2 linked regions of the Homo sapiens genome follow. The protein of the gene in region 1 interacts with the protein of each later gene in a pairwise test. Each region holds a gene or a part of one and is shown in the gene's direction. Other genes may lie near its edges.

Region 1 (3,818 bases):
ATTGCAGCTCAAACTCCCGGGGCTCAAGCAATCCTACCACCTCAGCCTCCTGAGTAGCTGAGACTACAGTGCATGCCACCATGCCTGGCTAGTTTTTTTTTTATTTTTTGTAGAGATGTGGTCTTGCTATGTTGCCCAGGTTGGTCATGAACTCCTGGACTCAAGCGCTTCTCCCACCTTGGCCTCCCAAAGTGCTGGGATTACAGGCAAGAGCCGCCACACTTAGCCAGATAAACAAATCTTTTAAAATGAAAGATGACCTTCAAGGTCAATTCAAGTCAGGACCAATAGGAAAAAGAGGAGATGGTTAAACAGGGTAGGGGAGAAATGGGGACAACACAAGCCACAAGGGATGGGGCTGGGCTGTGGGAAGGTCATGACTGAGGCAGGACAGCAACATGTCGTGTGGACCCCATGGTGTTCCCTGGGGATTGTACCTCGCAGCCAGGCAGAGCATGGGGTGCAGGAGCAGGGCATGGGGAGGCACAGGCAGCTGGGGAGTGCGTGCCCCTCCCCCTCCCCACATCTAAGGAAAGCGGCCACCAAGAGGGGCAAGCCCATTGTTGCCAGTTCTCCTGATTTTTACAAGAGAAGCCAGAAAGCTGGATTTTTCTGTAAAACCTCTCCATTTAAAAATGCTGGCAGTGAATTCAGATGTGTTCAAACCTTTTTTGGGCCACAAGCCGTGCCTGTGCTCCTGATTCGACCCAGGGGTCTCCAGGTGGGAGTCTACCCTGGGCGCTTCCATTTGCCCAGCGTTTTCCAAATGACAAAGGTGCTCGTAAGGGACTCTGATGGGCCCAGCGCTGTGAGGGGCTGGGGGGATCACTCTCTCAGTCTCGTGAGAGACCAGCGCCTTCACTTATGGTGCAAAGAGACAATGAGCAAATAGTTTATATGTAAGGCCCAAGAAGGGTGTGGTGGCCCACCGTTGACTCTCTGAAGACCAGGATTTTTTATCCTGGCTACCCGTGGAAATCACTTGGGTGGATCTTTAAAAATGTCTGGGCCCCACCCCTAGAGATTCTGCTTCAGTGAACAGCCAAAGTTAAGAGCCACTCTCTATGGTTTGAATTCTTCCACTTCCCCTTCCTTCCTTCCTTCCTTCCCTCCCTCCCTCCCTCCTTCCTTCTTTTCCTCCTTCCCTCCTTCCTTTCCTCCTTCCTTCCTTCCTTCCTCTCTCCCTTCCTTCTCTTCTTCCCTTCCTCCTCCTTTCCTTCCTTCCTTTCTTTCTTCCTCTAGCTCACCACATAAGCATTTATTGAGTCCTTCCCTGTTGGAGGAAATTTAAACACCTTAGCTGTTAGCATCAGGCTCCTCCCCAGCCAGTGAGAGCTGCTGACAAGGATGCAGACCCTGGAGGGTCAGGGTCCGCCCATATCACTGGTCCCATAGCTTCCACAAAGGCAGAAAAATCCAGGAAAACACACAAGGACTTACCTGGGCATAGGGTGGGCAGTGGTAAATGCAGAAACAGCCAGCCAGCTAGCTGTGTGGGTATCACTAAAACCACCCCCTTTTCCTCTGCTTCTCCAACCCATGTGCAGATCCCGGAGCTAGAGCTCCCATCCAGTTCCCCTGTCCCCCAAGTCACCACGCCAGAGCCAGGCATCTACCACGGAATCTGTGAGTAGCTCTCCTGGAGCAGTGTTGGGTGGAAGGAGGACCTTCCAGGGACAGGGGGAGTTGTGGCCACTTGGGACAGGGTTTCGCTGGACAATCGGGTGGGTTGGACACTGTACAGAGACACCAGGCCATGGGGCAAGTGGAGGCTGAAACCAGCCTGCGCTCAGCTCCCTGGCCCTAGCAGGGCCACCTCACTCCAGAGGAGGGGCATCTCTTAGCATTTTGCCTTCCCTGAGGGGCATTTTTGCATGCAGACACCCTATGTGTTAGCTGTGACCATGACCCTGACCCAGGAGGTGTAGTTGGCACCCAGAAAGTGTAGAACAAGAGGACATTAGAGCCTGAAGAGACCCAAGGCATCTGTTGGTGCAGTGCCCCGAGCTGTCTCTTCCAACTCCACCAAAGAGTAGATGCACAGGCAGAGAAAACCTGCATCCACTCTGCCCCGGGGGTGGGGGCAGGTGCACAGGCCCAGGGTACCAGGTCTTCTGACTTTTCAGAAGAAGTCGGAAATCTAGAGTCTTACGTGAAGTCTCCAGATTCTCAAATGTGTGTAACGAATTTTCTCATGTTTTAAAATATCACATGAGCCAAATAAAACACTTATTGTGTATCTGGCCAGCTGGCTGCCAGTTTGTGACTTCTGAGCAAATCCCAGGGGTTTTCTGCTGGGCCTGTTCCTCACCCTTCTTTTCCATTGATCCTTCCAGCCAGTTCCTCTCTTCATCCATGCGTGTCCACATCAGCCCCTCCCCGTCCTGGGGAATCTTCAAGCCCAAGGTCACTGCTGATTGTGATCTCCTCCCTCCTGCACCCTGCTAACCAGGTTCCTGGCAGCCTCACTTCCTGCTCTCTCCTGCCCCCTGTGAATGTGACCCGCTTCTACTTTATCTTCTGAGACAAAAGATGTGACACTGTCAGGATCCCCTCCCCACCTCCCCATCCTCATCTCCAAAATGAAGCTGGAGCCTCTCCGAATCCTGGTGTCAGCCCTTCCGGGACCTCCCCATGCCATCTCTGGAGTCCACCTGCAGGCACCTGTGCAAGCCACACCTTCCACCTAGGATGCCTCCCTGCTCCATCTCTGCCTTCTGACGACCACCTGTCGCTGGCTAGGTTCCCTAGACACAGACCCTGAGATGGAGTTTCCTGGGGTGTGCTCTTGTCAGGGAAGGGTAGGAGGCAGGATTGGGCAGAGGGAGAAGCTGGTCTGCGGTTCAGCCACTTCAAGGCCTCAGCCTGCTCCACAGGGAGCTCGGAACCTGGGATGGCCCTTTGGGGTCATCCTGAGTTGAGTGAGGGGCCATGTCTTTATCTGTATCAACATGGCACTGGCTATGGGCTGCCCCTGGGGAGGGGCATGGCTTTTTATTTTACTTTTTAATTTGTATTTATTTATTTTGACACAGTTTTACTCTGTCGCTCAGGCTGGAATGCAGTGGCATGATCTCAGCTCACTGCAACCTCCGCCTCCCAGGTTCAAGAGAGCTCCTGCCTCAGCCTCCCAAGTAGCTGGGATTACTGGTGCCCACCACCACGCCCGGCTAATTTTTGTAATTTTAATAGAGACAGGGTTTCACCATGTTGGTCAGGCTGGTCTCGAACTCCTGACCTCAGGTGATCCACACACCTTGGCCTCCCAAAGTGCTGAGATTACAGGCATGAGCCACTGTGCCCAGCCGGACATGGCTTTTTGCAAGGAGACTCTCTTCAGCCAAGGGCAGTCACAAGTCAAGAGCCTCAGTGGTGAGCTGCCAGCCGTCAGCACTTCCCGCCACCAGAGGACTAAGTCCTTCTGTTCCTGGGGGTGGGAGGTGGGGTCTGAGCAGTGCCCTAAGTGAGCTCCACATCCCCTCCCTTATGGCCCTTCTGCGACCGCATCTCCTCCCCAGGAGTCTTCTCTATCATCCCCTGTGAAAATTCATCTCTCCTTCACCTACTCCAAAATGACCAATGATCTCTTAGAAGGTGCCTTAGAGGAAGGTGCCTTATTTGGAATTCTCATAGCCCCTTACATTCCAGGGCGCACTCTCAATTACTTTCGAATAGCAGCAGTTTTAAAGGCCAACCTAACATTAGGCAAGAGCCTGGGTTGAGGCTTGGTTTCATCTCCCAGACAGGCACTGTGCTGGGCTTTCTCTGCCTTATCTCGCTGTAACACTCCTAGCTCTGTTTTCCATGAGATCAGGCAG
Region 2 (4,241 bases), on another chromosome or scaffold:
AAAACAACTTCTTAGAATTCAGGGGGAAAAAAATACAATGCTAAGGGAAACAGAGGCTTGGGCAAACCTAGGTAGCCTTGAGGGATAATCTGGCTTCTACTCCAAGATAAGTTCAGCTCTTACAGGAGACAGAAGCTTTCAGGGAATTAATGTAGCTGAGGGAAGAAAAGCAAATGGGAGTGATACCAACAGTGACCAACCAGAAGCTTATCTCCTGTCAAAGTGACAGCCACAGAGGAGCTCTGGCCATTGCTATGGAAGACCATGGCCCCTCTCCCAAAAAAAAAAATTTCTCAGATACCTTCAAAAAAAAGAAGCAAAATGATATATCAACCAAGTTTGTTACCACTGTGTGGGATTTTACTCTATAGAATTCTTTTTTTTTTTTTTTTTTTTTTGAGATGGAATCTCGCTCTGTCGCCCAGGCTGGAGTGTGGTGGCGCAATCTCGGCTCACTACAAGCTCCACCTCCCAGGTTCACGCCATTCTCCTGCCTCAGCCTCCCGATTAGCTGGGACTACAGGCGCCCACCACCATGCCTGGCAATTTTTTTTTTTTTTTTTTTTTTTTTGTATTTTTAGTAGAGACAGGGTTTCACCATGTTAGCCAGGATGGTCTTGATCTCTTGACCTCATGATCCACCTGCCTTGGCCTCCCAAAGTGCTGGGATTACAGGCGTGAGCCACTGCGCCTGGCCTATAGAATTCTTAATGATGAAAATCTTATGAACATATCAATCTCCTAGAAAGTTTTTGTTGTTGTTTTAGGTTTTTAGAGCATACATGACGTATTACCTTGCTCTAAAGGGTTGTTGCATTCTGTATAGAAGAACTAAAAAATGATTGTTCCTTATGACTGAAATTTGCTTTCAATCAGAATTTTTTTTGTTGTTTTTGTTTTGAGACTGAATCTCGCTCTGTCGTCCAGGCTGGAGTGCAGTGGCACAAGCTCAGCTCACTGCAACCTCTGCCTCCTGGGTTCAAGTGATTCTCCTGCCTCAGCCTCCCGAGTAGCTGGGATTACACACATGCCTGGCTAATTTTTGTATTTTTAGTGGAGACGGGATTTCACCACGTTGGCCAGGCTGGTTTCGAACTCCTGACCTCAAGTGACCCACCCACCTCCCCCTCCCAAAGTAATGGGATTACAGGCGGGAGCCACCACACCCGGCCACAATCAGTTTTTTACAAAGGGAAAAGCTTTATTGTGAATATGACTTTAAGGTACCATTTATTATTGGGGACAATATTGAGTGATTAAAAGTTCAATGCGAAGTTCCTTATGATGAGACTTTCTTACAAAATTAAACCATCAATTAATTTGTAATTTTTTGAGTATAGAAATTGAAAGAAGAGGGCCGGGCAAGGTGGCTCATGCCTGTAATCCCAGTACTTTGGGAGGCCAAGGTGGGCAGATCACGAGCTCAGGAGATCGAGACCATCCCGGCCAACATGGTGAAACCCCATCTCTACTAAAACACAAAAAATTAGCCGGGCGTGGTGGTGCACACCTGTAGTCCCAGCTACTTGGGAGGCTGAGGCTGGAGAATCACTTGAACCCTGGAGGTGGAGGTTGCAGAGAGCCAAGATCACGCCACTGCACTTCAGCCTGGTGACAGAGCAAGACTCTGTCTCAAAAAAAAGAGAAAGAAATTGAAAGAGGCTATTGTCAAGCTGGGCTCAAGTGAATATAGCACTGATAGTAAACAGCACTGATAGAATTTCTGTGAATGTTAGCTATGAAAGCAGAGTTGTTTGAGCATAGGAACCAACACATTCATTTAGCACTTAGCAAATATATATTGAGCACATACTATGTGCCAGGCCCTGTGCTGAACAAATGCAGATAAAAGCACTGAACAAGGCACGTCTTTTACCCTCAAAAGGTCACAAAAGGAAACTAAGGCAAATTAAGCAACAACAAAAAAAAATGGATTGTTTATGTTTGTATTTACTGTACTGTCTAATGAAATGTTTTTGTTTTATCTTCTAAGGATGTAGATGCTTATTTATTACAGTTACATTGAGAGATTTCATCTACTAAAGAGCATTTGGTTTTTCAAAACATCCCTGAACTGTATAATTTACAAAAAAAAAAAGTCTCGTCTGAGAACTGTGAACTGTGGAAGAAATCAAAACTATTTTTTCTTTTAAAAAGCCACGTAATGAAACCACTAATGAAATCCCAGCAATCTGCTTCACATTGAAGTGGAAAAATATCCAAAAGGAGCAGCTTCAATTTCATTGAGGTGAAAGTGCACTATGAAGATTGTTCACCTTTGCTGCATTTGGGAGTTATATGGTTATTTGGTAACATTAAGAACTACTGGATTTTAATGCAATCCTGCATAAAAATATAATTTATACTATGTGAAAAAATAAGACAGGACTTACCACTAGGAACCACCAAGACCAATCATCATTAACTTTTTTAAGATTGTGTTTTATTAAAAAAAAAAAACACTTAAATGTGTGCAGCTATTTTCTTATGTTGAAAAGACTGAAAGTTTAAAACATGAAAAAAATCAATATTAAACATTTTTTGTTCACACTGAGATACTGTGTATGTAAAATGCCTTAATTATTAATAAGCCAATGTGTTATGATACCAATATCTGTTTTAAAAAACTAAAACCAACCATGCTTCTGGCATGATAAAATCATGGAATTAAATCAGGGGTTTACATTCTTGTAGAGTGTTCTTGAAACACTCTCTGCACCATTTTTAAAACTTGAGAATAGTTTTAGTATCTCTGATATTTTTTGCCAGAATCATCATGTCATGTATGAATGTGTTATCCCTATCTAAGGAAAAAGGTGAATATGTTTTTGTATGAATGTTTAACTGGAAATGTCCATGGACTTGGCTAATTTATATTTACTTTTTATTGTACATAGATTTCTAATATTTTTCATTCCTGTATCATTTAAACTTCCTTCATTTGAGTAAATTCACTAAATATTTCTATTTTTTGCTTTTTTAAATTCTGATTTTATATGAATTCTAATTCTTTTTCACTACATATGTTTTAAAGAGTTACATACAGTGATTTAGAATGGTTTACAGTTAATGCTGATCTTGTATTTTAAATTCCAACACTTTGTGTCACTACCTCCTCTAATGGTTAGTATGATATGCTAGCAGACTGTATGAGGTCTTTTTTTAAAATACCACTTTTAGTGTCAGTGAACCAAATTCTGGAATGTCTTAACAGCTCTAAATCTTACTTGTCTTGAAAATGATTGGGGTTTAATACCACTGCTGGTGGTTCACACATCATCCCATCCTTAATATGCCTGACAGGCATCTGAGCAAAGGTTTTTAGTAATTGAATTTCTCTGCAGTAGTCCTTCAAGCACTTGAATGTAAACCTTTAGCATTTATTCGTTTAATGACTACTGATACGAATCTCAAGCAGATTTCTTGCTCTTAAAAGTTATGTTTCACTGAGTTCTGGTTTTGTGTAGCTATATTTTATATAGCTAGATATTCCTCACAGTGAACATGAATTGTAATAATTGGTTATTTCCTTAAGTCTTTAGATTATAATAATTTCAGATTATTGCACGTCTGTGATTTGAGAGGTGAGTTATTTAAGAGGCCAGTTTTCAGGACATGGGAATTTGAATTGTAAACCTGTTATCTCTGTGAAACTTTTAACATGATAAAATATAACCTTTCTTTGTGCTTATTCCTGTAGTTATCACTGTCTTATGTAGCAGTTTGAACCAGTTAACTTGGTTGGAGTATGGTGCTAAAGAGGCCGTGGACAGGAGTTTGATGCTTTTGTAGGTTCATTAACTTTACATACACACAAAATGTTTTTATAGCTGTCGATTGCACCTTCCGTCAGGTATCCATCTCAGAAATTCAGGAAGATGGTATGTATAGCTTAGCATAAACCTTTCGCCTCAAATGGAAAGATTACTCAATGGGTATATGTGATACTGTAGACTTTTAATCTAACATTTAAAATAATAGATTCAAAATAAGATATCTAAAATACTGTGTAATGTTTAGTTTCAAAGTATTAAGTAATATTACATCAGATATTTTTCACATTTTTCTCTGGGTCAGATCATTGACTAAACAGTATCTTCAAAAATCAAACTTCAATAAATCAGACTTCAGAAAAATTAAGTACAAATGACATATAGTAAGAACAGGTATTATCTTGGTAACATTTATACCTAAATTTAGGTTTTTTGAAGGCATGTAGATAATACTTTATCTTACATACT

What was found.
Region 2: the proteins of KATNIP (region 1) and KATNBL1 interact in a two-hybrid assay, tested with the Homo sapiens proteins (one large-scale study listed by IntAct).

What each region holds. Positions count from the first base shown.
Region 1 is NC_000016.10:27,752,626-27,756,443, forward strand, and holds part of KATNIP (katanin-interacting protein), read left to right. Parts: intron 1-1,547; coding exon 1,548-1,626; intron 1,627-3,818. UniProt on the Homo sapiens protein: May influence the stability of microtubules (MT), possibly through interaction with the MT-severing katanin complex.
Region 2 is NC_000015.10:34,140,124-34,144,364, reverse strand, and holds the end of KATNBL1 (KATNB1-like protein 1), read left to right. Parts: intron 1-1,993; coding exon 1,994-2,026; 3' UTR 2,027-3,691; downstream 3,692-4,241.